4 linked regions of the Homo sapiens genome follow. The protein of the gene in region 2 interacts with the protein of the main gene of each other region in a biochemical or structural test. Each region holds a gene or a part of one and is shown on either strand. Other genes may lie near its edges.

Region 1 (7,024 bases), on a different chromosome or scaffold from region 2:
CACCAGCATCAGGGAACTTCTCATGCAACGAGTCCTTCAGCACTTTGGCAATGAAGCGCATCCCATAACTGCGGGATGGACAAAACTTAGTGAGAAGGGCCAAGGAGCAGAAAGGCACTTAGTGCTGGGTTCTACTGGGGGTCATGACAACTGATGGCACTCACGGGATTTTGTCCACAGAGCTGACAATGGCTGAGAGAAACTTGTCTGTCACAGCCCGCATGTTCCTGATGGAGCTGTCTAGCCGTGTCTTCACTTCTTCATGAGCTAGCGCCTGCTCAGGGGTCACATCATAGGGCAGTTTGCTGGGAAGACAGAAATTATACCCAACTATGTTAGACTAACAGCCAGGAACAGCCTGAAGCAAGTGTCTTATCTTTCATAAACTATAAGACCCAGAAATATTAGATAGCTTAAGCTCATCCTCACGGGGCTGGTAAGTGATAAGTCTAGAATCTGAACGCAGGTTTTTAACTGTGAATCAGGTGCCTGAATTGTGTGCCAGGCACAATAACAGGCACTTGGGAATAAAAGTTATACAAGACATGACACCTTCTCTTCAGTCTTTTACAGTCTGGTGGGAGCGACACACAAACAGATGATTATAAACCTATTGTGCTGTAAATCAGTTCACCAAAAGTGCCACAGGACCATAGGGAAAGGGCTTCAACTCAGAATGGAAAAAGCAAGGAAAGCTTCCAAAACGAAGGGATGCTTGAACTCAGGAAAAAAGGAGAGGAAGAGTCTTCTAGGAAGGAAGGGGAGACAGGAGAAATGACAGTGGAAAAGCAGACAGGGAGCAGGCCATGACAGACCCCGTATATGATACTGACAAATCTGGACTTTGTTAGAAACCAGAAGGAGGTCTTCAAGGATAGGAGTGCTATGCCAGGCACAGCAGCACATGCTAGCATTCCCAGCTACTAGGAAGGCTGAGGTGGGAGGACTGCTTGAGCAAGACCTTGTCTTAAAAAAAAAAAAAAAAAAAAAAAAAAGAGGCAGAGAGAGCTTTGGTACACACAGAAGGGGAAGAGAAGGCAATGTGACCACAAAGGCAGAGGCTGGAACCACACAGCCACAAGTTGAGGGATGTCAACAGTCACCACAAGCTCTAAGAGTCAAGAAACAGAGTTTCCACTAGAGCCTCTGCAGGGAGCGTGGCTCTTCCAGCACCTCGACTTCATGATAATGGTTTCAAATTTCTGGCCTCCACAATTGTGAGACCATGACTTTCGGTTGTTTTAAGCCACCCAATTTGAGGTGATTTGTTATGGCAGCCTTAGAAAATACAAGTAGAGGCCGGGTGTGGTGGCTCACGCCTGTCATCCTAGCACTTTGGGAGGCCGAGGCGGGTGGATCACCTGAGGTCAGGAGTTTGAGACCAGCCTGGCCAACATGGAGAAACCCCATCTTTACTATAAATACAAAAATTAGCCAGGCGTGTGGCGCATGCCTGTAATCCCAGCTATTCGGGAGGCTGAGGCAGCAGAATCGCTTGAACCAGGGAGGCAGAGGTTGCAGTGAGCTGAGATTACACCATTGCACTCCAGCCTGACCAACAGAACGAGACTCTGTCTCAACCACAACAACAAAAAGAAAAATACAAGTAGATAGGGATACCCCTCTTCATTTGTCATAGCATGGCTAAATTAAAATTGGTAGACTATGAACACAAAAATTCTGCAAAAATCAACAGAAACATTCTATGAGAAATAAATAAATACATGGAACTTAACAATAAAGAATATTGTATATTTTATTATTTATATGAGTTTTAAAAGTAGTAACCAGCAAGGGAATCAATATGCTAAAAAACGTTGGTGATAGAACAGAACATTAACTTTGAGATTTTAGGAAAGAACATTCCCAAGAGGTGACAAGATTCCAGTTTGCTACGTGTATGGTGGCTGAAGTAAAAGAAGAAAGCTAAGGGACCTGTGATGCTTACCTGCAGGACAGATCCCCACCACACCACCATCCCTCACAGTCACTGGTATCTTAAAAAGAGTTCAAATCAATTTCCTTTTTTTTTTTTTTTTTTTTTAAGATATGGGGTCTACATTGCCCAGGCAGTGCTCAAACTCCTGGGCTCAAGCGATCTTCCTGTCTTGGCCTCCTGAGCAACTGGGACTACTGGTGCATGCCACCATGCCTGGCTCAATTTCCATTTTATGAAAGGCAAAATAAGACACCAGTTTCTTATAGGTACCCACAAGAAAACCAATCCTGAAATGTCCAGCGGGCTTTGGATCTGAAAATGACTGACTCATGGACCATCAGAGGAAATAACTGAGAAGCCCGGAGCCAGTGTACATGGGGCTATCGGCAAGGAATGCCCTGGGTTGCAGGCAAAACTTCCCAGACAAGTATTGCACTTGGCTGACCACATTCCTGGATGTGGGCCTCAGGTATGCAGGCAAAAAAATTAAAAAGACTTTTGCAATGATCTGAGTCCTGATAACAGACCTACATGGTACTGAGAACCAATCAGATGCCAAATGATTCCTAATAAGGAAACGCCCCTTCTTTCTTTTTTTGTCAACCAGGATGGAGTGCAGTGGCGCCATCAAGGCACACTGCAGCCTCAACCTCCCATGCTCAACCTATCCTCCTGCCTCAGCCTCTGGAATAGCTGGAACTACAGGTGTGCACAACCACACCCAGCTAATTTTTTTTTTTTTTTTTTTTAAGTAGGGACAAGGTATCCCTATGTTACCCAGGCTGGTCTCAAACTCCTGAGCTCAAGCAATCCTCCCACCTCAGCCTCCCAAAGAGCTGGGATTACAGTCGTGAGCTACCATGGCTGGTGAGATAAGCCCTTTCAAGGAGTCAGCAGAATGTTCCGTTCTCCACCCAGCGTAAAACTCCCTGTTTGCCTGGCATCCGGGTACATGGAAAGTAGAATGAAGAATAGTGTTATTCAAAGTGTGGACCAGTGCCAGTCTACAAACTGATCAAAGACAAGATAAAGACAATGAGTCAGAATGTAAATCAATACATTACTTCCTTCATTAAGAAAATCTTGCTATGAAAAAAAAAGTATCAGTTAAACTAAACAGTGTGCACAGATGATTTTCCATTACTGGTGTGCAAACCACACTTTGAATAGCAATGGTGTGGACAGCTGCTACTCCACCTATGCCCAGAGAGCTTCATGCATGATCTAACTCTACTCCACAACAAGAAAAAACCACAACAGACCATGCTGCTCACACCTCCATCTCCCACCCCTCTGGGTCCTCACCCAAGACAAATAAAACCAGAAACGTTTTGGCATTCTGAACTCCCTTTTCCCAGCATTACCAATATTTGATTGGCACACTTTTGCTTTAGATAAATGAATGTTGGTGGTTACGCTATGGCCCTAGCTCAGCTATCTCCTGTAATACGTTAATTTAATTAGCCCAACTCACGATATTTCAGGGAAGCTCACTCCACACCGTTTTCTTTTTCCTTTAATGAAACACAGTGATCTCACCCAATCTATATGAACCTTCTCATTCAACTGTATCCCTAGTTATGCCAGGGTCCATTTAAGTCCTACACCCTCCAGCTTAGAGTGTTCAGACATAAACACTCTGCACCTAGCTCTTAGTAAGGCTGGGTTCATCTTAGCTTTAGGGCCTCAGCTAAATGAAATTTTATCTTCCGGGATAGGCTTTCCCTAACCACCTTATGTTAGCTCCCTCTTATAAAGTCTCCATTAAAGAACCGTACATAAAACTTCATAAAACTTTCTTCAATGTTTAATTATGCTTTTATTTTTATGTACCTGGTTGGTGTCTCTTCCACCCAATGAACTATGAAGAGAGGGCAGGAAGCATGTCTGTTTCACTCATTATTGCATTACTGTACACATCTCTAACACAATGCCTGGCACATAGTTAATACTCAATAAATATTTGCTAAATAAGTGAATTTATTACTAGGTCAACAACTTAGAAAGCACAGTTTTCTAAAGAAAAACTATTTGAGGCTGGGTGTGGTGGCTCACAGCTGTAATCACAGCACTTTGGGAGGCCGAGGCAGATGGATTGCCTGAGGTCAGGAGTTCGAGACCAGTCTGGCCAACATGGTGAAACCCAGTCTTACTAAAAATACAAAAATCAGACAGGTGTGGTAGCGTGCAACTGTAATCCCAGCTACTCGGGAGGCTGGGGCATGAGAATTGCTTAGACCTGGGAGGTGGAGGCTGCAGTGAGCTGAGATTATGCCACTGTACTCCAGCCTGGACGACAAGAGTGAAACTCTGTCTAAAAAAAGAAAAGAAAAGAAAAACTATTTGAACTAATATTAGTTTATAAATAAAGAGAGGGGAAAAAAGAGGGAAAGACTATAACAACATGAAAGAAAAGTGTCATTATGGTTAACATACCTTGCCTCTCCTGTCTGAGACTCCATCTGATTAACCCAAGATTTGTAAATATCCACAGGGTCAGTTTTGATGTTGAGAGATTTGTCATCCATAATTTCCTTCACGACTGGGGCCAAGATCTGTCTCAGGGCATTCTGGCCACGGGCACCACGGTTGAAACTTACAACCATTTTAATAACCGTAGGATTTCCTGTCACAATCTCTTGAATCTGATCTACCTTCGACCTATAAAACATCAGATAAAAATTTAAACTTGTCACAAAACCCATCAACTTAAAAGATCCTTCCTGCTTAAAGATCCTATCTCCCTGAAACAGTTTCTCTCGAAACATTCCCCAGCACTCACAGAATGTTCCTGCAGCTGCACGCTCAATCGTGGTCATGATTGGGTCCGCTACTAGATAAAAATGTGAATTCTTTCTGTTCAGATTACTTTTTGAAATTATACCTTAATACAGAATGTTCCTAAAGTTAATTTATCCCTTCCCTAGAAGCAGCAAGATTTTATATCAGTTATTTAAAAATTAGATGCTTCTTTAGAGTAAGTATTTTTCATAAATTAATTGAGATCAAGAAAAGATCAGGAAGGCATGAATCTCAAACTGGGAGCCCCTCTGATAGTGGGAAGGGGCCTGTGCCCTGAGGAAATCTGTTCATACTTGATTTCCTCTTGGAGTGCTGTCTTAAAGAGCCGCAGGAGCAGGTACTCCTCTCGCTGGTTGGACGCGTAGTTGTAGAGTGTGAAGATTACAGAGTCCATGAACTTGGTGGACTTGTTCTGGGGCATCTGAAAAATGAGCTTGGCCAGATAGGTGGGATTGGTCTGAAATAAAACCAAGGGATAAGTCATTTGTAGGTAATATAAAGGCTGGCAAGATATATTCAATTATTTAAAATTGAAGGACTACAATACATATGAGAAAAAAGATTAATAAATTAACATGTTACAGTGCCCCTCACTCACCCCTCAGTGGAAGTCAAAAATACTTCCAGAGAGATCGATGGTAAGGCTTTCTTGTGGAAAAATAAATTCACTAAATTTTTATAACACTGATTCCAGGAGCCACTTACTTGCAATAAATAAAACAGGTGCTGGTAAGCTTCCAACTTCTCTCTCTTCTCCTTGCTCAAAGCCTTGAGACCTCCCTTCTGTTTATTTATCATCATCATATCAGACAACTGTTCCTTATTTTTTTTGGTAAGTTTTTTACTGTGGGAAACCACATCCTATAAACAAAAACCAATAAATAGATCAGAAAGCTTTCAAAGATGAACCTCTGGGCATTGAGGAAAGGTTTTGCAGCATGTGCAAACTCACATGAAGGTGTACTGCACTGGCAGATTCCCACTGAATATTTAAAAACCACTACACTTTATCCTGTTTTCAGTACACCAGTCAAATCCATTCCTATGTTCCAACAAAGAATCTGAGCCATAAGAATGTCCACTGAATTGGCAAACCAACTTCCAGCAGTCTATTATAAAAATAAGTCTTAAATACAATAAAAGCTACATATATATTGAAACATTAATTGCAATGTTATTTATAATAAACGCTTGGAAAACAACCTAAATGTCAAATACTAGGGGAAAAAGAGGTAAATCATAGTATATCTTCTAAAAATCTAATATGCTACTGTTAAAAATAATATTTATGGCTGGGTGCAGCGGCTCACACCTGTAATCCCAGCACTTTGGGAGGCTGAGGCAGGAGGATCACCTGAGCCCAGGAGTTTTGAGACCAGCCTGGGCAATACAAAGATACCCTATCTCTTATAAAAATATAATTTGCCAGACGTGGTGGCATGCACCTGTCGTCCTAGCTACTTGAGAGGCTGAAGTGGGAGAATCACTTGAGCCTAGGAGGTCGAGGTTGCAGTGAGTCATGATCATGCCACTGCACTCCAGCCTGGGGTACAGAGGGAAACTCTGTTTCAAAAAATAAAATTAAAAAAAAATTATGACTACTTATCATAGGGAAAGAGTCTTATCCTTTAATATGAAGTAAGAATGTAAGATACAAAATGACTGGGGTAGGTGAAATTAGGGGAAGACATTTATCTTCTTTTCTCTATCAAAATTTTGTCAATTAAGTTGTTTTATGTCTTAAATAATTTTTTTTTTTTTTTTTTTTTTGGAGATAGAGTTTCACTCTGTCACCCAGTCCGGAGTGCAGTCATGCAATCTTGGCTCACTGCAACCTCTGCCTCCCAGGTTCAAGCGATTCTTCCACCTCAGCCTCCTGAGTAGCTGAAATTACAGGCATGTACTACCATGTCCAGCTAATTTTTTTTAATTTTTAGTAGAGACAGGGTTTCACCATGTTGGCCTGGCTGGTCTCAAACTCCTGGCTTCAAGTGATCCGCCCTTCTCGGCCTCCCAAAGTGCTGGGATTATAGGTGTGAGCCATCATGCCTGACCTGTCTTACATAACTTTTTTAAAAGCTTATGATGGCCGGGCATGGTGGCTCATGTTTGTAATCCCAGCACTTTGGGAAGCCAAGGTGAGTGGATCAATCACTTGAGGCCAGGAGTTCCAGACCAGCCTGGCCAACATGGTGAAACCCCCGTCTCTACTAAAAATGCAAAAAAGCCGGGTGTCGTGGCTCACGCCTGTAATCCCAGCACTTTGGGAGGCTGAGGCGGGTG
Region 2 (7,024 bases):
CTGCCTTATAAATTGGGCAAGTCCAAGTATTTTTGGGGCCCCAGTTTTTTTTTTTTTTGGTTTTGGTTTGTTGTGTTTTGTTTTGAGACAGTCACATTCTATTTCTCAGGCTGGAGTGCAGGCATGATGATGGCTCGCTGAGGCCTCAACTTCCTGGGCTCAAGTAATCCTCCCACCTCAGCCTCCTGAGTAGCTGGGACCACAGGTAAGTGCTACCACGCCTGGCTAATTTTTGTAGAGATGGGGTGTCGCCATGTTGCCCAGGCTGGTCTTGACCTCCTGGGCTCAAGCGATCTGCCCGCCTTTACCTCCCCAAGGGCCCCAGGACCGATGGCCTACCTTGGCAAGGTTGTGCTGTTCTTCTCCCAGGGTCTCCGCACAGATTCTGGGGATAGGCAAGAAATCAGAAAGATCAGGGACAAAAGACTGCCCCCCAATCAATCTTACTCCCCCAACCTCATCAGCCCCTGATCAAAGCCCCATCTCAGGAGACTACAATCCCCAGCACCATTCGCCCTGACTCTCCTATAAGGGTGCTTAACATGTGAGAACAGAGTATTCTGGGATTTGTAGTTCCTGTGGCTGGACTGGGCACTCTACTCACCACTCTGGGCCGGGACTCTGGCCTCTGGCTCCTCCTGCTGGTAGGAAATAAAACTGCCATGAGCCAGCCCCTGCCACACCTCTGCCCATTTCCTCTTTCAGGTTCAAACCCCACACATCCCACTATCCCTACCCTCATGGTACGGCCTAAGAGATGTAGGGCAAGAAGAGTCCCTGACTTACATTGGCAGATTCATCCTTGGGGGTTTTCTCCCCAACTTGCGTGGCTTTCCTTCTGCAGGAGAGAAAAGCAAAAACACGTGCTTCCGTCACCCAACCCATCCCCTTCTGAGGGGAGTTCTAGAAATGTAGATCCTAGCGCATAGAATTCTGGAACTCCGAAAACCTAAGGAAACTCTAGTTTTAGAAATTCAAGAGATTGTGCTGGGCGCAGTGGCCTGTAATGCCAACACTTTGAGAGGCTGAAGCAGGTGGATCTCTTGAGGTCAAGAGTTCAAGACCAGCCTGGCCAACATGGTGAAATCCTGTGTCTACTAAAAATACAAAAATTAGCCGGGTGTGGTGACTCATGCCTGTAATCCCGGCTACTTAGGAGGCTGAGGCAGAAGAACTGCCTGAACCCAGGAGGCGGAGGTTGCAGTGGACCGAGATCATACCACTGCACTCCAGCCTGGGTGACAGAGCAAGACTCCATCTCAAAAAAAAAAAAAAAAAAAAAAAAAAAAAATTCAAGAGATTGTGGTTCTAGAATCAGGGTGGAGGAGGTTCTATGATTCTTATATTAGGGAACAGTAAGATTCCGAGGGTGGAGCGGTGCTGTGTTGGAACACTGAGATTGCAGGAACCTGAGTTCCCAGAATTCTGAGGCAGGATCTCCTACGGTTCTAGAATTCTGGGTTTTAGAACATCTACAGGCTACCTAGGTGGTTGCAAGCCTCAGGCATTTCATGACAAACCCCACCATTATATCCCAAACCTGGTTATCAAAGGGGGAACATTCACCAAAAGAAACAAACTAAACAGGAATTGGAGCCCTCCTCTGACTGGGCCCTACTGAACTGGAACTCCAGGTGACTTGGGGGTCCAGGCTCAGGCTCACCTCCGGGCCAGCATGGCGTTCATCTCTTCCATGAGTCCCCCACCTCCGCTTCGACCACTCTCAGCTTTGGGGGCTGTGGGCCCCCCTGAGGCCTCCTCCTGCTGGAGAAATTTAAAAGGGGCAGGAGCTTTAGGGGCAGGCCTTTTGGCCTTCCAGCCCAATGACACCGCCGGCAGCCCTGGCCTCATCCCCCATAAAAGCCCTGTTGCCCCCTGCCCACCTCTCCCGGCCCCTCACCTTGCTGACTTTCCTGAGTTTGGCTCCAGCAATAGCTGCGGCCAGGCCTGGGGCCCCAGCTCCCCCACCACCAGGGCCCTGTGCTGCCGGGAGAGGGGGTGCAGGGGGTGGTCCTCCCCCTGCTCCGTGCGCTGCAGCTGGGACCCCCGAAGGGGGCAAACCTGGGGGTGGGGGGGGACCTGGAGGAGGGGGAGGTCCTGGTGGTGGGGGTGGACCCCCAGCGGGGGGAGCAGGTGGGCCTCCTGAAACAAACACAGAAAAGGGGGCAGCTGAGAGAGAGAAGCCTCATTCTTCACTGTCCAGCTGGCTGGCCACTTCCTCCAGGGAGGCCCCCTCCCAACTCCCGAAGCTATCTGAGCATCACCTGCATTGGAGACCCGGCGCTCTATGTGCTCCGACGGGCCGGGCTGCTGCCTGTGGGGGGAGGCGAGAGAGCTGCCGTCAATCAGGGCCCTAAGGATGGCCAGCGAAGGGGCCAGCGACCTCCGTCCTCTCTCTCAGAGGTCTCCAGGGTGGCTGGCTCCTAATACTCACCCAAGCCTTCCTCCCCTAGGGAACCAAGAAGGGGGCTGGGTGAGAGTAGGGGGAATGGAGGGCAGGGCAGCGACAGGGAGAGATCAGGATGCGAGATCCCAGTCACTAAACTGTCAGGAACACCGAATTACAAAATGCCCAAGATTCTTTCTTTTCTTTTTTTTTTTTTGAGACTCTGTCACCCAGGCTGGAGTGCAGTGGCTCGATCTTGGCTCACTGCAACCTCTGCCTCCCGGGTTCAAGCGATTCTCCTGCCTCGGCCTGCCGAGCTGGGATTACAGGCACGGGCGCCACCATGACCGGCTAATTTTTGTTATCTTCAGTAGAGACGGGATTTCGCCATGTTGGCCAGGCTGGTCTCAAACTCCTGACCTCAGGCGATCTGCCCGCCTCGGCCTCCCAGAGTGCTGGGATTACAGGCGTGAGCCACCACGCCCAGCCACAAGATTCTTTCAACCACCATATTCTGATTTCCAGGAATCTGCAGGGACCAGGAGGTTCTGCAACTCTGAGTGTCAGAAGTTTCTTGAACATTCTGAAAACTGCAAGTTGGCTGGGTTCTGAACTCTAGGAGTCAAGGGTTCCAGAACATATGGAACTCTGGCAGCGGCTAAGGTTCCCCACCCAGGGCCCAGCCCCACCTTTTCTGCTGCTCCACCTCCTCCGGGGAGGGGCCGTTCGGGACCGACCAGGTGGGAAGTGCTGGGGGTGGAGGGGGCCCACCTCCTGAAAGGTGAGAGAGAAAGGGCCATGGATCAGTCCCAGAACTCTGCTCAGCTCTTGGCGCTTCCCTTGCTCTCCCAGGCCTCCCAGGAATCCTGCCCAGAGGCGCTCACTTCCTCCTTCCAGAGGCCCTGAGGCTCCAGGCCCAGGAGGACGCACATTGGGAGGTGAGGCAGCACCAACTTCCCTGGCCTGAGTTGCCCTAAGGTAGGTGCTGTTGTGATGTCCCAGTGACAGGAGAAGCTAAGGCCCGGGGAACAGTCACTTGCCCCAGATTTCTCCAGGGTGGAATGTGCAGGAACAAGACTTGAATTCAGGCTGATTCCAGCAGCCAGGCTCTTAACCACTGTTGGTTTGTTTCGAGACAGAGTCTCACTCTGTCACCCAGGCTGGAGTGCAGCAGTGCAATCACGGCTCACCACAGCCTCCACCTCCCGGGTTCAAGAGATTCTCCTGCCTCAGCCTCCTGAGTAGCTGGGATTACAGGCGCCTGCCACCATGCCTGGCTAATTTTTGTATTTTTAATAGAGATGGGATTTCACCATGTTGGCTAGGCTGGTCTCGAACTCCTGACCTCAAGTGATCCACTTGCCTCAGCCTCCCAAAGTGCTGAGATTACAGGCGTGAGCCACCGCACCTGGCCCCTGGCTAGCTCTTAACCACTGTTACAGCCACTTGGACCTTACCTAAGAACCTGGAAAGGTAAAGAGCTTCTTCCTCACCTACCTCCAGGCCTCTGGCCCTAGCACCTGAATTGAATTGGCTACGAATTAACAATGAATTAGCCCCAATTTACAGATGACTCAACTGAAGCCCACTGTATTTTTCTGTGTGCCCCAGAGGAGCAAGCCCCTTCCGCACTAGCACAGAAGTTGTCCCACGAAGCAAACACCCCTGCATTTGGTGACTTTCAGTTCTACAGCAGTGATTCCAGGCCAGATGCACGGCAGTCACCTAAAACCTCACTACTCAGTCACGTCCGCAGACCAGCAGCCTGGGTATCACCAGGGCACTTGTGAGAATGTGGAGTCTCAGTCCGCCCAGCCCACCTGCACCAGAGCCTGCACTTTAACCAGATCCCCAGGTGATTCATGTGCACGTTAAGGTTTAAGAAATAGCAACTGGGCTGGGCGCGTGACTCGCGCCTGTAATCTCAGCACTCTGGGAGGCCGAGGCGAGTGGATCACCTGAGGTCAGGAGTTCGAGACCAGCCTGGCCAACACTGCGAAACCCCGTCTCTACTAAAACTACAAAAATTAGACAGGCATGTTGGTGCACACCTATAGTTCCATCTACTCAGGAGGCTGAGGCAGAATTGCTTAAACTCAGGAGGCGGAGGTTGCAGTGAACTGAGATCACACCACTGCACTCCAGCCTGAGAGACAGAGTGAGACTCCATATTAAAAAAAAAAAAAAAAAAAAAAAAAAAAGGCCGGGCGCAGTGGCTCACGCCTGTAATCCCAGCACTTTCGGAGGCCGAGGCGGGCGGATCACGAGGTCAGGAGATCGAGACCATCCTGGCTAACACGGTGAAATCCCGTCTCTACTAAAAATACAAAAAATTAGCTGGATGTGGTGGCGGGTGCCTGTAGTCCCAGCTACTCGGGAGGCTGAGGCAGGAGAATGGCATTTACCCGGGAGGCAGAGCTTGCAGCGAGCGGAGATCGCGCCACTGCACTCCAACCTGGGGACAGAGCGAGACTCCGTCTCCAAAAAAAAAAAAAAAAAGCAACTGGGCTGGGTGTAGTGGCTCATGCCTGTAATCCCAGCACTTTAGGAGGCTGAAGTGGGAGGATCACTTGAGCCCAGGAGTTCAAGACCAGCCTGTAGACCATCTCCACAAAAAGTAAAAAAAAAAAAAAAATTTGAAATGATCCAGGTGGCCAGACATGGTGGCTCACACTTATAATCCCAGCACTTTGGGAGGCAGAGGCAGGTGGATCACTTGAGGCCAGGAGTTTGAAACCAGCCTGGCCAATATGGTGAAACCCCTTCTCTACTAAAATACAAGGGCCGGGCATGGTGTCTCATGCCTGTAATCCCAGCACTCTGGGAGGCCTAGGCGGGCGGATCACAAGGTCAGGAGATAGAGACCATCCTGGCTAACACGGTGAAACCTTGTCTCTACTAAAGATACAAAAAATTACCCGGGTGTGGTGGCTCACGCCTATAGTCCCAGCTACTCGGGAGGCTAGGGCAGGAGAATCGCTTGAACCCGGGAGGCGGAGGTTGCAGTGAGGCAATATCGTGCCACTGCACTCCAGCCTGGGCAACAGAGTGAGACTCTGTCTCAAAAAAATAAAAATAAAAACAAAATACAAAAAAATAGCTTGGGCATGGTGGCACATGCCTGTAATCCCAGCTACTCAGGAGGCTGAGGCACGAGAATCACGCGAACCCGGGAGGTGGAGGTTGCAGTGAGCTGAGGTTGCACCACTGCACTCCAGCCTGGGTGACAGAGCAAGACTCTGTCTCAAAAAACAAAACAAAAAAAGAGCCAAGTATGGTGGTGCACACCTGTATTCCCAGCTACTTAGGAGGCTGAGGCAAGAGGATCACTTGAGCCCAGGAGGTGAAGGCTGCAGAGAGCCATGATTGTGCCAGTGCACACCAGCCTGGGCAACAGAGCGAGATCCTGTTTCTGGGGCAGGACCTACCTATGTCTTGATCTGGGAGGTGGTTTCCCGGGAGTGTGCCTGTGTAAAGTTCATGGAGTACTGATCCCTGAGTAATCGTGCATTTTTTTTGTGTTTGTTTTCTTTCTGAGACGGAATCTTGCTCTGTCGCCAGGCTGAAGTGCAGTGGCCTGATCTCGGCTCACTGCAACCTCTATCTCCTGGGTTCAAACACTTCTCGTCCCTCAGCATCCCGAATAGCTGGGATTACAGGCGCGCACCACCACGCCCAGCTAATTTTTGAATTTTAATAGAGACGCAATTTCACCATGTTGGGCACGGTGAAACTCCTGACCTCAGGTAATCCGTGTGCCTCGGCCTCCCAAAGTGCTGAGATTACAGGCATGAGCCACGGCGCCGGGCCAATGGTGCATTTTACACATAGGTGCACACGGTCACACTGGAATGCACAAAATGCTAGTGATAATTTTCCATGATAACAATGAATTCGCTCTATTTTACCGACGAGTAAACCAAGTCCCAGCAGGGTAAAGCGGCAGCCCCAGGCCACACAGCCGCATTCACTGGTCCCCTTTGCCCGCCGCCATTTCTGACCTTCCAACGCCTCTAGGGCACTGGCCATGCCGGCGGCAAACTGGGCCGCATCCTCCTTGCTGCCGAAGTTGAGGCCCCAGACCTGGCGAGCGTCGCGCCACTGATGGAAGTTGGGGGTGGCCTGGTTATACTTGACACCCCGGACGATGGCACAGTTGATGACCACCTGGTGGGAGGGGAAAGGGGGGTGAGGGGCGGCGGGCGCAGGGGTGGGGCGGGTAGGGGTTCAGCCCACAGAGGGGGCCGGCGGGAAGCTGCACCTGCTGGTCGGGCTGCATCTTCCGGCCCACGACGCGAAAGGAATTGGCCGTGGGGTTGTGGTAGATCTGGACGCGGCTGAAGGCCTGGGGACCCGTGCCAGCAGGGAGCCATCGCTTGTTGCCATCATCATAAAGCATCACAGTGGCCCGGCTGGAACAGATGACCGTCTCGCTGCAGGCGGGAGGAAAAGGGAGAGGGGCCGGTCACCTTCTTATCTGGGTCTCTCCTGGGAGATTCCAAGGGACAAAGACAGTGTGTGGAAGGAAGAGAGTGACACAGAGGGAGGCAGGAGCCACGTGGACAGAAGGAGACGGGGGAGACAGATCAGGAGAGAAAATCAGATCAGGAGAGACAGGCAAACACACAAACGAGATGC
Region 3 (7,024 bases), on a different chromosome or scaffold from region 2:
CATGTTGACCAGGCTGCTCTCGAACTCCTGACCTCAAGTGATCCGCCTGCCTTGGCCTCCCAAAGTGCTGGGATCACAGGCATGAGCCATCGCGCCCAGCCATTTTATTTTTATTTTTGAGACAAGTGTTGCTCTGTCACCCAGACTGGAGCGTAGTGGTGAAATCACAGCTTACTGCAGCCTTGACCTCCTGGGTTCAAGCTATCCTCCCACCTCAGCCTCCTGAATAGCTGGGACTACAGGCATGAGCCACAGTGCACAGCTAATTTTTAAATTTATTGTAGAGACAAGGTCTTGACATGTTGCCCAGGCTGGTTTTGAACTCCTGGTCTCAAGCGATCCTCCTGCCTTGGCCTCCCAAAGTGCTCGGATTTCTGGTGTAAGCCACAGCACCTAGCTGGCCAGCAGTTTTAATCACCATTGCTTTTTCACAGAGATTACAAAAGTCAGCAGAGTAAAATATGTAGATAAAGTCTTAGTGTTATTATGAGAATGGTTTTGACCTCACAGATTCTCTGCTAGGATCTTGGAGACCCACCTGTAGGGTTCCATGGAACACTCTGAAAACTACAGGTTTATAGAACTGCTCCAATTCAATAAATTGTCAAAATTGTTCATGCTCCTAAAGCTCTAGGTGTATTTCCTTGAATTTGGTAGCTGTTTAAAATGAGAGGTTGCACTATTAGTCGTGATAATGTTCTGCTGGGTGATGACTGAGGTCACCATCTCTGCTCCTCTTTTCTTTAGGTGACCTGGTGATTCTCGATGGCATTCCCACTGCAGGCTGGCTGCAGGGCCGAAGCTGCTGGGGCGCACGGGGCTTCTTCCCATCTTCATGTGTCCGCGAGCTCTGCCTCTCCTCACAGAGCCGGCAGTGGCACTCCCAGAGCGCCCTGTTTCAGATTCCGGAATATTCCATGGGACAAGCCCGGGCCCTAATGGGGCTTTCTGCTCAGCTGGATGAAGAGCTGGACTTCAGGGAAGGGGATGTGATCACCATTATTGGAGTTCCTGAACCAGGCTGGTTTGAAGGGGAGTTAGAGGGCCGAAGAGGCATTTTTCCAGAAGGTTTTGTAGAGCTGTTGGGGCCCCTGAGGACTGTGGATGAGTCAGTAAGTTCTGGAAATCAAGATGACTGCATTGTTAATGGTGAAGTAGATACCCCTGTAGGAGAAGAAGAGATAGGGCCGGATGAGGATGAGGAGGAGCCAGGGACCTATGGGGTCGCCCTGTACAGATTCCAAGCCCTGGAGCCAAATGAGCTGGATTTCGAGGTCGGGGATAAAATCCGAATTCTGGCGACCTTGGAAGATGGCTGGCTGGAAGGATCCCTGAAGGGCAGGACAGGCATCTTTCCTTACCGGTTTGTGAAATTATGTCCTGACACACGGGTGGAGGAAACCATGGCTCTGCCCCAGGAAGGCAGCCTTGCCAGGATCCCGGAAACTTCTTTGGATTGTTTGGAGAACACCTTAGGAGTAGAGGAACAAAGACATGAAACCAGTGACCATGAGGCCGAGGAGCCTGACTGCATTATTTCTGAAGCACCCACTTCTCCCCTCGGTCATCTGACTTCAGAGTATGACACAGACAGAAACTCTTATCAGGACGAGGACACCGCAGGAGGGCCCCCGAGAAGCCCAGGCGTGGAGTGGGAAATGCCTCTTGCCACAGACTCTCCCACATCTGACCCTACAGAAGTAGTCAATGGTATTTCCTCCCAACCTCAGGTCCCTTTTCATCCCAACTTGCAGAAAAGCCAGTATTATTCTACAGTGGGAGGGAGCCACCCGCACTCAGAACAGTACCCCGACCTTCTTCCCCTAGAAGCAAGGACTAGAGACTATGCCAGCCTACCTCCCAAAAGAATGTATTCCCAGCTAAAAACTCTTCAGAAGCCAGTGCTCCCTCTTTACAGGGGCTCTTCTGTTTCAGCTTCAAGGGTAGTCAAACCCAGACAATCAAGTCCTCAGCTCCACAACCTAGCAAGTTATACTAAAAAGCACCACACGTCCAGTGTTTACTCCATCTCAGAGAGATTGGAGATGAAGCCTGGTCCGCAAGCCCAAGGGCTTGTTATGGAAGCAGCAACACATTCACAGGGAGACGGCAGCACTGACCTGGACTCGAAGCTGACACAACAGCTGATCGAGTTTGAGAAGAGCTTGGCAGGGCCCGGCACAGAGCCAGATAAAATTTTACGCCACTTTTCAATCATGGACTTTAACTCTGAGAAGGATATTGTCCGAGGTTCCTCAAAGTTAATCACCGAGCAGGAGCTGCCGGAAAGGAGAAAGGCCCTAAGGCCACCGCCACCTCGTCCCTGTACTCCGGTATCCACTTCTCCCCATTTGCTGGTTGACCAGAACCTAAAACCTGCACCACCCTTGGTGGTGCGACCCTCTCGCCCAGCTCCCCTGCCTCCCTCAGCACAGCAGAGAACGAATGCGGTATCCCCCAAGCTCCTATCTCGACACCGTCCTACCTGTGAGACCTTAGAAAAGGAGGGCCCTGGTCATATGGGAAGGAGTCTGGACCAGACCTCCCCATGCCCCTTAGTGCTGGTGAGGATTGAGGAAATGGAGCGGGACTTGGATATGTACAGTAGAGCTCAAGAAGAGCTAAACCTCATGCTGGAGGAGAAGCAGGATGAATCATCAAGAGCAGAGACCCTCGAGGATCTCAAGTTCTGTGAAAGTAACATTGAAAGTTTGAATATGGAACTCCAGCAACTAAGAGGTAAGTGACGAGGAAATAATATGTAATTGTTTCTTGACACTCACAAGTCCCAGAAACAGCCTACCCAGGCTTTTTAGGGATATGTTACCATCCTCGATGGACAAAAAATGATTTACATTTTCATTACCTAATTTCTTTTCTTTTTTTTTTTTTCCTTTTTTTTGAGACAGTCTCGCTCTGTTGCCCAGGCTGGAGTGCAGTGGCATGAACTTGGCTCACTGCAGCCTCCACCTCCTGGGCTCAAGTGATTCTCCTGCCTCAGCCTCCCAAATGGCTGGGATTGCAGACATGCGCCATCACCACACCTGGCTAATTTTTGTATTTTTAGTAGAGACAGTGTTTTGCCATGTTGCCAGGCTGGTCTTGAACTCCTGGCCTTGGGTGATCCACCTGCCTCGGCCTCCCAAAGTGTTGGGATTACAGGCATGAGCCACCACGCCCGGCCTCTTTTTTTTTTTTTTTTTTTTTTGAGACAGAGTTTCGCTCTTGTTGCCCAGGCTGGAGTGCAATGGCGCGACCTTGGCTTACCACAACCTCTGCCTCCCAGGTTCAAGCGATTCTCCTGCCTCAGCCTCCTGAGTAGCTGGGATTACAGGCAAGCGCCACCATGCCTGGCTAATTTTGTATTTTTAGTAGAGATGGGAATTCTCCATGTTGGTCAGGCTGGTCTCGAACTCCTGACCTCAGGTGATCCGCCCACCTTGACCTCCCAAAGTGCTGGGATTACAGGCATGAGCCACCGCACCCAGCCTCACTACCTAATTTCTTATTTCATCACCCTAGATAGGCTGTCTTGAGCCTCTGACTCTGTTTTGAGCCTATGACTGCTGTAGCCTCCTGACTTCATTTGCTGCTCAGATAAAGAATCTCAAACCTTGCCGGGTGCGGTGGCTCACACCTGTGATCCCAGCACTTCGGAAGGCTGCGGTGGGTGGATTGCTTGAGCCCAGGAGTTTGAGACCAGCCTGGGCAACAGGGCCAAACCCTGCTTCTACAAAAAAATACAAAAAATAATTAGCCAGGAGTGGTGGTATATCCCAGTAGTCCCAGCTACTCGGGAGGCTGAGGTGGGAGGATTGCTTGAACCTGGGAGGCAGAGGTTGCTGTGAGCAATGATCATGCCACTGCTCTCCAGCTTGGGCAACAGAGTGAGACCCTGTCTCCAAAAAAAAAAAGAATCTCATACCTCGGAGACACATATACCTCTGGGACATTTATGTCTCTTATTCTGCTATGGCATCCATAGCAGTGGTGCAGATGGGAAGTCCCTAAGTAGAACTTTCTTTAATCAGGCTCCATTAAGCACTAAAGACTTCCAGGTTAAGAAAGACTCATGAGAAAACTCCATCTTGTATCTTTGCTGTCCAGAGAGTAGATTTCTTTTTTTTCTTTTTTTTTTTGAGACAGAGTCTTACTCTGTCACCCAGGCTGTAGTGGTGAGATCTTGGCTCACTGCAACCTGTGCCTCCCGGGTTCAAGTGATCTCATGCCTCAGCCTCCTGAATAGCTGAGATTACAGGTGCATGCCACCACGCCTGGCTAATTTTTCTATTTTTAGCAGAGATGGGGTTTTGTCACATTGCCCAGGCTGGTCTCAAACTCCTGACCTCGAGTGATCCACCCACCTTGGCCTCCCAAAGTGCTGGGATACCATGCCTGGCCAAGGGAGTAGATTTTAATAATAGTAATAGCTAACATTTATTACCATATTAGTAAGCATGTGTTAGAATTTGCCTACAGGAAGAATGTTCACAGCTACCCTAAAGGTACAATGATAATTCATATGGCTACTCTATAGATGAGGAAACTAAGACATAGATATTGAGTAGGCTCAAGCCTGTAATACCAGCACTTTGGGAGGCCGACGTAGGAGGATCACTAGAGCCCAGGAGTTCAAGAGCAGCCTGGGCAACATAGAGAGACCTGTCTCTTAAAAAAAAAAAAAGTTTTAAATTAAATTTGAAAAGAGATTAAGTGACTTGCCAAGGGAGTTGGGATTTAAGCTTATGTTTCTAACAACTATAGTTCACCGCTTCCTATACTGGCACACTGAAAATTCAAATTATTTCCCTTAATTTGGGAATGATAAGCCTCTGGAGACTTCATTCATATTCACCAGACTCACAGGAGAAAAAATTTATAAATAGGAAGAGTACAAGAGGTAGGCAACCAACAGCAATTGGTCTAGGGCCCAAGAACGTGAATACATGTCACTTTTGGCTTGTGTACCAGAGATTTGAACTTATGTGTCATCAGGAAAGTCAATAATAGAAAGCAACCCAGGGGGTCTAGGAATAGCAGGATACTAATAAGAGATAAAAGCAGAATGGTGATCCAGAGATCCTGGATCAAGATGGCAGACTGAGCACATATAGCTACCTCCCTCCCTTTCTACTTTAGGTCTATAAAAGTGAATGGAAATAATAGAATAAAAAAATTCCAATAAAAAAGAGTATTATTGGAAATCAAGTAATCTTCTGAAAGATGATATAGCAGAAAGAGAGGGAAACCTCTATTCAAAATATTCTTAGGAAAGGACTATTATGCATGTGGGCAGAGTTCTAAGGGAACTGCAGACTAAGAGATGGTGCGGTAGGAGGGGTCCTAGAGCACATTCAGTGTAATTGATTAGGGGATAGCTAGGGAGCCAGGCCGCTGGGTTGCTTGTACTGAACAGCAGGAGCATTTACCCTCAAGCTACAGCATGAAGTAGATGCTTAGACAAGTCCTCAAAAAGGTGTTCATTTAATATGAGTACTTGAGCTCTCAGGGGAATGCCAGATACCTTGATTTCAGAGTCCCTGAAAAAGAATTCTGAGGGAACCTTGGCTGAGTGTTACATTCCCAAAGCCCTAGCAAACTCCAGATTCTCCATCACTTTCTATACCTACAAGTTTCAAGATAAACCTGTAAACAATTCTTGCATTAGATATTGTATTAGTCCATTTTCACACTGCTGATGAAGATACCAGATACTGGGCAATTTACAAAATGAAGAGGTTTAATGGACTTACAATTCCACATGGTTGGGGAGGCCTCACAATCATGGTGGAAGGCAAGGAGGAGCAAGTCACGTCTTACATGGATGATAGCAGGCAAAGAGAGAGTTTGTGTAGGGAGACTCCCATTTTTCAAAACCATCAGATCTCATGAGACTTACTCACTCTCACGAGAGCAGCACAGGAAAGACCTGCCCCCATGATTCAATTATCTCCCACCGGCTCCCTCCCACAACACATAGGAATTCAAGATGAGTTTGGAGTGGGGACACAGCCAAACCATATCATTCTGCCTGGATCCTCCCAAATCTCATGTCGTCACATTTCAAAACTAATCATGCCTTCCCAACAGTCCCCCAAAGTCTTAACTCATTTCAGCATTAACTCAAAAGTCCACAGTTCGACGTCTCATCTGAGACAAGGCAAGTCCCTTCTGCCTATGAGCCTGTAAAATCAAAAGCAAGTTAGTTACTTCCTAGAAACAATGGGGATACAGGCATTGGGTAAATACAGCCATTCCAAATGGGAGAAATTGGCCAAAACAAAGGGGCTACAGGCCCCACGCAAGTCTGAAATCCAGTGGGGCAGTCAAATCTTAAAGCTCCAAAATGATCTCCTTTGACTCCATGTCTCACAACGAGGTCACACCGATGCAAGAGGTGGGTTCCCATGGTGTTGGGCGGCTCTGCCCCTGTGGCTCTCCAGGGTACAGCCTCCCTCCTGGCTGCTTTCACGGGCTGATGTTGAGTGTCTACAGCTTTTCCAGGCACACGGTGCAAGCTGTTGGTGGATCTACCATTCTGGGGTCTGGAAGATTTTGGCCCTCTTCTCACAGCTCCACTAGGTGGTGCCCCAGTAGGGACTCTGTGTAGAGGCTCTGACCCCACATTTTCCTTCTGCACTGCCCCAGCAGAGGTTCTCCATGAGAGCCCTGCACCTGCAGCAAACTTCTGCCTGGACATCCAGGCATTTCCATACATCCTCTGAAATCGAGGCAGAGGTTCCCAAACCTCAGTTCTTCTGTGCACCCGCAGGCTCAACACCACATGGAAGCTGCCAAGGCTTGGGGCTTGCACCCTCTGAAGCCATGGCCTGAGTTCTACATTGGCCCCTTTCAGCCATGGCTGGAGCAGCTGGGACACAGGGCACCAAGTCCCTAGGCTGCACACAGCATAGTGATCCTGGGCACAGCCCAGGAAATCACTCTTTCCTCCTAGGCCTTTGGGCCTGTGATGGGTGCAGTTGCCGTGAAGACCTCTGACATGCCCTGGAGACATTTTCCCCAT
Region 4 (7,068 bases), on a different chromosome or scaffold from region 2:
GACTTACGCTTAGAGACTCCTTCCCTCTCTCTATGTGCCTGGCCTGGGCTTCACTTCGCTGCCTGCATGGTTCGTGGGCAACAGGTCTTGAACTTAGGACATGGACCCATTAATCATAGTGGGTTCCTGCTTTCCCTACATCTCATGCGTTGCTAGGGAGTGACCATGGTACCACTGGACATGAGACACTTTCCTTTAGCTCCATAAGGGACGCATAAACCTCCAGTGGGCAAACTGGACATGCCCCATCCTCACCTTCCTTTGTTAAAAATCAGTGTTTCCCTGGAAGACTGCCAGGGGAGTGGCCTGGGGGAATCCTGACTTTTGGAGTCCCAGCCTTGGAGAGGCAGGTCTCTAAACTGGTGACTGATTTCCTATGGAGACGAGATTCCTTTGCAGAACACCAGAGGGCAGACTTGCCATGTTGACCTGGAACGCTGCCTAACTTTTACCTCTTGGCTGTCAACGCACTCCAACCTTTCCCAGGCCCAAGGAGGCAAGCAGAGGCCAACAGCCCATGCTAGAGCGGAAGCAGTTGAGAATCAGGGCTGGGAAGCTGCTCATCAGATATCTCGTGCTTAGGCCAGATCCAAATTCTGAATATCTGGTCAGGGTTTTCTGCATTATACTCGAAGACTGAGAATGTCTGAGCTAGGGGGATCTCAAAGGTCTTTTAGCACAATCATTTATAAATAAAGATGAGGGAACTTAGGCCCAGAGTCAGATCTTGGTGAATAAATGGAAGGCCGTGCTGGCTTGGGGTCCCTAGACTCCATTTAGGGCATGGCCCCAAGAAATAAGAGGGTAGCAGGTGTAAAGCTTTCTTATTGGCCATAGAACCCGTCTATTCCCCAGCAGGCACCCCTGGGAGGATATGAGGGTGACAACAACCAGGGAGAGGACCATGGGATCAGGGTCCTTTCTGCAGAGACAGCCCTGCCTCTTGCTCCTGGATACCGCTCTCTAAGCAAGCAAGCACAGCTTCAGGGGCTCGGACTCAGGGGGGCTTCAGGCTAAGCCCTACCCCTGCAGGCCTCATGGCCACCCCAGCTCAGCCTCTCCCCGGCTACACCCCCGCCCCTCAATGACCTACCACCCCTCAAGCCCTTCTCTGGTCTCTGTCCATGTATGTCTTATCTCTCTTGTGACAGGTGTACTAACAGTCCCCAGAGGCCAGTAGGGAAAGAATGGGAAGCACGTGCCCCCTCCTGCTGCCCCTGACCCACTGCTCTGCACCACACAGGGTGCTAAATATAGCTGAGGTCCTGGCCTCAGAACAGCAGCCCTGGGCTCAGAGGGAGGCTGAGGCCCAGCCAGTGGGGACCCTCAGTACCCTTGGCTCACCTCATCTCCTTCATTAGCCTGGGCTCCCCTATCCTGCCTCCTGGGCTGGTGTCAGGCCCCTGGGCTGCAGGCCAGCCAGGTGCTAGAACCTGGACACCTTCCCTGGCCAAAGGAGTCTGCACTGGGGGGAGGTACTGGAAGTAAGTGGGGCAGGACTTCCTCCCTATGGCTACCTCAGAAGGAGGAGAGAGGAAACTGAGACCTGCTGACCCCATGCCCACCCTGGCATGTCCACCAAAGACATCAGAACCTTTGGGGAATGTGAGCTCTGAAACCTGCAGCCTGAGTCTCATCAAAGCTCTGGGTGGTTTTCTTTCATTTCTGAGCTCCAATGAGGATCCCCTGCCCAAGGCAAACCTGAGCCTGTCTCCACCTCTACTCCATCCTGTCACCACCAGGGTGGCCTGAGCAGATGGTGTGTGCACACCATCAGCTTCACCCCACCCCCGCCCCCAGGAATTTCCAGAATCTCTGCTAAGGCCACAGACAGTTATTATCATGGAGTCCAGGGATGTCAGGCCTAAGGACCCTCAGAGGTCACTCAATCTAAACCCCTTATTGTTCAAATAGGGAAACAGAGGCCCAAAGAGGGGAAAGGAGCTGTCCAAGGAGGCTCAGCAAGGCAGTAGCAAAGCCTGAAGCATGTCTCCTGACTCCTGGCCTTCCCACCACCATCTTTGCCTGGCTTGAGACTGCTGGGACAAGTGTAGAGTCAGGACAGAATTCATAACTGGGACCAGACTTACGTGGGGTGAGCCCCAAGAACTGTCCTAGAGCTTGGTCTCCTAGGGCTGGGCCAGCCTCTCAGGATGGTCCCCCTGCTGTCCTCGGGTCACCTCCTCCTTGGCCCAGCTGGCTCCATATGTCTTTACATCTGGGCAAATTCAGATCTGGTCTCCCTCCCGTGAGCCCCCCAAATCTGCCCTGGGGGCTTTCCCACTGGGCAAGACTATGGACATGGGCAGAGTCCGAATTCCACCCCAGGTTTTAGGCTATGATATGTAGGGAGCTGGGCTCCGGCCAGCCCCTGGGAGCTATCCCTGGGCCAGATATGCCAAGAGTGTCATCCACAACAACTAGGCATGGGGCTTGTTCTAGCAATGCACACTCAGGCCTACTTACAGCCCCCTGCCCCCACCTCTCTCCTGTTCCTCCTTCCTCCAGATCCTGGGCCTGCCTGAAGCTTCCCTGGGAGGAAGCCCTGAAGCCTGAGGCACTCCATACCTGTATTTTAAAAATCACAACTCCAGGCCTTTCTGGATCATGCCAGCCTGGCAGGAGCCTATCCTTTCTGCTAGCTTCAGGCCTGTGGCAGCCACTCTGAGAGCTCCCATGGGGCTCACACTGTCTTTACCTCCTTTGTGGGTTCTTTATGTCTGAGACTTCCACTCACCTCCTCCCATGCATGCCCCTCAATCTCCTTCCCCTACTCAGAGCCATTCCTAATACGTCCATTTCAGAAGGAGAGGGGATCCCAGCTGTGAAAGCCAGCCTTGCTGTGGAAGGATGGAGAGGTAGGTTACTCACCAAGGGTCTCTCTTGGCTGATGGGGTGTTTGTGGTCTGTAGCAGCTGTGGTCTCAGGGTTCGTCGTTCCTCTGGAGGTTCTTGTTCAAATTGGTTCTGTTCTGCTGGCTCCAACAGACACCTTCTTGCTGCCCTGGCTCCAGGTCTCTGTCCCCTGCCAGCCCCAGCAGCTGCCTTTATCTTGCTGGCTAGTGGGTGGGCCGTGGTGGGGGCGGGTGGGAGAGGCTATGTTCCGAGTATTAAGTGGTTCGGTTATTTTTAGGTCTTGTGGAAGTCACTCTTCCATCCTGGGGAATCAGTTACATGTCCTTTGGGCTGGGGAGGGGAAACAGAGGGGGAGAAGCTTCATTCATCCAAAGTCTGATCTGGGGATTGGGGTCAGTGACTCAGCTGGGTTGTGAGGTTGGGGGTGTCCCAGACTATTTTGAGAGAGTGACTAAGAAGAGGCATCTGACACCTTGGACAGCTTGCTCCCGTCTTGTGAGCCCCCATCATTCTACTCTGGCCCTGCCTCTGACTCTTCCTGACGTGTCTCCACCCACCGTGCCAGGAGACTGGAGGTCTCCTGAGGGCAGGCTGGGCACCTCCTCCTCTGTTCTGAGCCTGGATACCTCTGAGTGTGATGCTCAGCTCTCTTTCTTCCCCATTCCCTTCTGCACTAAAGAGTTCCTTCTTTCTTATCCATTCCACCCTGTGCCCCACAGCACAGGTCAACACAGCCCCGATGAAGCTGGATTTGGGGGGAAGACATCTGAATGACCAGGCCCAGCTCTTCACTGGGCCGAGATTGGCCAGGCCCAGCTCCTCCTTTGCACCACTACACCCAGTTAATTTTTGTATTTTTAGTAGAGATGGGGTTTCACCATGTTGGCCAGGCTGGTCTCGAACTCCTGACCTCAGGTAATCCACCTGCCTCGGCCTCCCAATGAATGAATTCCACAGCAGGACTCTATGGTTTTCATTCCAGATTATCTGAGTCCTTTCTTCTCGACTCTTCCCTCTGACTCAGGGCCCAGGCTTTCTGGGAATGGAGGGGAGGGGAAGGGCGGCATGCAGGGAGCTGACCGTGGGGTTATTTCTGACCCTGGAGTCATCAGCTTCCCAGTCACAGATGGAGTGGCGGCGGGGGTGGGGGGGTCACACCTGCCTCCTCCTTTGCTTACCAGGGCGTGAGGGGCCCAGGAGGCCCAAGAGATCCTGGCAGTCAGACCAGTGTGGTGAAGGATGTCAGGGGACCATCTGCAAAAAACTCGAAAGAGGTGTTTTGTCCTAGGTGGGCCTGGCCCAGGCTCCATGCCTGTGGGTATGCAGGTGCATTCTGTGGCCTGGCACATGAGGTCTTCCTTCTGACTCCCCAAATGCCCTCTGGTACCAGGGGGTGATGCCAGACATTGCTCACTTTTTCCATGTAGTCAATGTCAGTCCTGCAGCGTCAGCTGGGATGGGGGTAAGGACATCTGGGAACCCCCTCTTCCTGGTCTCCCTCCCTCTTGTCTCTTCCCCTGCTCTTTTCTAGCCCTCTGCCTGTCCCCCAGGCTCCTGGCTCTCTCTAGGAAGGGCAGGGAGACCGATGTACCAGTGTTTCAGGGAAAGGGCAGCCTTAGGTTTCTCAGGATTTCTCCTGGGAGGAGCTTTCTCCCTGTGGGTACTGAAATTTCTTACTTTCTAGGATAGTTTTGAGAATTGAAGGAATTATTATATGAAAAGAGTGCCTCCAGCCAGGCACGGTGGCTCACGCCTGTAATCTCAGCACATTTCGGCAGGCTGAGGCTGGTGGATCACTTGAGGTCAGGAGTTCGAGACCAGCCTGACCAACATGGTGAAACCTTGTCTCTACTAAAAATATAAAAAATTAGCTGGGTGTGGTGGCACACACCTGTAATCCCAACTACTTGGGAGGCTGAGGCAGGAAAATTGAATCTGGGAGGCAGAAGATGCAGTGAGCTGGGATCGCACCCCTGCACTCCAGCCTGGGCGATAGAGCAAGACTCTGTCTCAAAAAAAAAAAAAAGTGCCTGAGAGTACTTAGCACATAGCCTATGCTTTAGAAGAGCCAGCTATTATACTGTATATAATATAAAAAGAGAAAAGCCCCTAGGTGGAACTCACTTTTGTACTCACCTCCTGTGATAACTCATGGGAGAAATTCCTCAGGCCTCAATATTAGGAAAGAGGCTCTTCCTGAGCACTTGGTTTCTTTGTATCTAGTACAGCTGTGCTGTCCAATAGAGTTGCCACTAGCCAAATGAGGCTATTTAAATTTAAGTACATTAAAATGAAATAAAATAAAAACTCAGTTATTTCACTACACTAGCCATATTTGAAGTGCTCCATAGAGACAAGTGGCTAGCAACTATTATATTGATTTTGTTTGCTTGTTTGTTTTTGAGACGGAGTTTCGCTCTGTCGCCCAGGCTGGAGTGCAGTGGCGCGATCTCGGCTCACTGCAACCTCCACCTCCCGGGTTCAAGCGATTCTACTGCCTTAGCCACCCGAGTAGCTGGGATTACAGGTGTGTGCCACCGTGCCCAGCTAATTTTTGTATTTTTAGTAGAGATGGGGTTTCACCATGTTGCCCAGGCTGGTCTCAAACTCCTGACCTCAGGTGATCCACCTGCCTCCGCCTCCCAAAGTGCTGGGATTACAGGCATGAGCCACCGCACCCAGCCTGAAACTATTATATTGAATAGTGCAGAATGTTTGCATTATTTCAGAAAGTTCTACGGATAGTGCTGTTATAGATGTTAAAATAAATAAGAAAATAAATTTTTCTGGAAGGAGAATTGTCAATAGAATAAACAATTTTTATGACATATGGTGTTTCTCTTTGACTTGGCTGCTAGGAAACTCAGAGCTAAATTTTTAACCTAGCAAGTAGACTTTATGGTCCAAATCCTGTGTAATGAGGGTGACCAACTTTTTGTTGTCTGTCTCTGAGGAGTTTTGCAAGACAAGGGATGTTCAGTTTTAAAACTGGAAAAGTTCTAACAAAACCAGGACAAGCTAGTCACTCTATGTGTAATGATCTAATGATATCACATCATCATGGTATTAATTATGAGGCTGTCAAGATAGTAAACTAGGCATTATTTACTGGAGTATCTTTAGTGGTATTAAGAAGGTAAACTGAGGCACAATAAATTTTTTAAGAGTTTATTTGTGCAAACAACAATTTTTGAATCAGGCAGTCCCAAACCAGAAGTGGCTTGGGAACTCTACTGAGGGAGCACAAGCGGGAGGTTTTTATAAGACAGATACAGAAGTAAAGCAAATATAATATTTGATTGGTTACAGTTATACAGTTGCCTTATTTGATCTATCCCATTGGAAAGTCCCTGGTTATATAATTATTTGTGCTGGCTGCTTCTCATTAGTTGCACTTAAGTTTTATTTTTCTTTAATATAGGCATTTACAAGAAATAGCTCAAAGGCAGGCATGGTGACTCACACCTGTAATCTGAGCACTTTGGGAGGCTGAGGTGGGAGGATCACTTGAGCCCAGGAGTTGGAGACCAGCTTGGGCAACATAGCGAGACCTCATCTCTACAAAAAATAAAAGAAAATATTAGCTGAGTGTGGTGGCATGCAATTGTTGTCCCAGCTACTTGGGAGGCTGAAGTGGGAGAATCGCTTAAGCCAGAAAGGTGGAGGCTGCAGTGAGCCGTGATTATGCCACTGCATTCCAGGCTAGGTGGCAAAGTGAGATCCTGTCTCAAAAAAAAGAAAAGAAAAGAAAAAAGAAAGAAGGAAGGAAAGAAGGAAGGAAGGAAGGAAAAGGAAGAAAGGAAGGAAGGAAAAAGAAAGAAAAAGGAAGGAAGGAAGGAAGGAAAGAAGAAAGGAAGAGCTCCAGTTTTGCATGTCTGCAAATCAAGCAAGGGTAAGGTCCCTTACGAGACCTAACTTGTTTTGCCTGCTCAGGGATGCTTCAGGTCTGAGCTCCATTTTTTTAACAGTGGAGATACTGTGCATCTATTTCTTTAAGCTCTCTCAAATCATTTTGGGAACGAGGCTGGAAATAAATAAATATCCTGAGGTTGAACAGCTGATCTTTGCCAACAGGCAGAGAGGTGCTCGGGGAGGGGGTATGAGGGAAGGGTGGTTCCCTTCCAGCTATCGCAGTCCTCTCTTTGGGAGCCTACTGGTTTTTAGGGTCCAGGGCATCATCTCCTACCAGCCCCTCCCTCCAAGTAGGGCTCCA

Evidence for each region.
Region 1: the proteins of VASP (region 2) and IQGAP1 form a complex in vitro, tested with the Homo sapiens proteins (one study listed by BioGRID).
Region 3: the proteins of VASP (region 2) and DNMBP form a complex in vitro, tested with the Homo sapiens proteins (one study listed by BioGRID).
Region 4: the proteins of VASP (region 2) and XIRP1 form a complex in vitro, tested with the Homo sapiens proteins (one study listed by BioGRID and IntAct).

Annotation. Positions count from the first base shown.
Region 1 is NC_000015.10:90,475,241-90,482,264, reverse strand, and holds part of IQGAP1 (ras GTPase-activating-like protein IQGAP1), read right to left. Parts: intron 5,603-7,024; coding exon 5,447-5,602; intron 5,199-5,446; coding exon 5,035-5,198; intron 4,601-5,034; coding exon 4,376-4,600; intron 306-4,375; coding exon 165-305; intron 69-164; coding exon 1-68. UniProt on the Homo sapiens protein: Plays a crucial role in regulating the dynamics and assembly of the actin cytoskeleton.
Region 2 is NC_000019.10:45,517,458-45,524,481, reverse strand, and holds part of VASP (vasodilator-stimulated phosphoprotein), read right to left. Parts: intron 6,820-7,024; coding exon 6,648-6,819; intron 6,554-6,647; coding exon 6,388-6,553; intron 3,533-6,387; exon of another isoform or gene 3,239-3,532; intron 3,161-3,238; coding exon 3,076-3,160; intron 2,315-3,075; coding exon 2,265-2,314; intron 2,143-2,264; coding exon 1,901-2,142; intron 1,765-1,900; coding exon 1,664-1,764; intron 839-1,663; coding exon 787-838; intron 642-786; coding exon 605-641; intron 386-604; coding exon 340-385; intron 206-339; exon of another isoform or gene 169-205; intron 1-168. UniProt on the Homo sapiens protein: Ena/VASP proteins are actin-associated proteins involved in a range of processes dependent on cytoskeleton remodeling and cell polarity such as axon guidance, lamellipodial and filopodial dynamics, platelet activation and cell migration.
Region 3 is NC_000010.11:99,950,929-99,957,952, reverse strand, and holds part of DNMBP (dynamin-binding protein), read left to right. Parts: exon of another isoform or gene 1-747; coding exon 748-2,739; intron 2,740-7,024. UniProt on the Homo sapiens protein: Plays a critical role as a guanine nucleotide exchange factor (GEF) for CDC42 in several intracellular processes associated with the actin and microtubule cytoskeleton.
Region 4 is NC_000003.12:39,189,575-39,196,642, forward strand, and holds the start of XIRP1 (xin actin-binding repeat-containing protein 1), read right to left. Parts: upstream 3,022-7,068; 5' UTR 2,872-3,021; intron 1-2,871. UniProt on the Homo sapiens protein: Protects actin filaments from depolymerization. Required for correct cardiac intercalated disk ultrastructure via maintenance of cell-cell adhesion stability, and as a result maintains cardiac organ morphology, conductance and heart beat rhythm.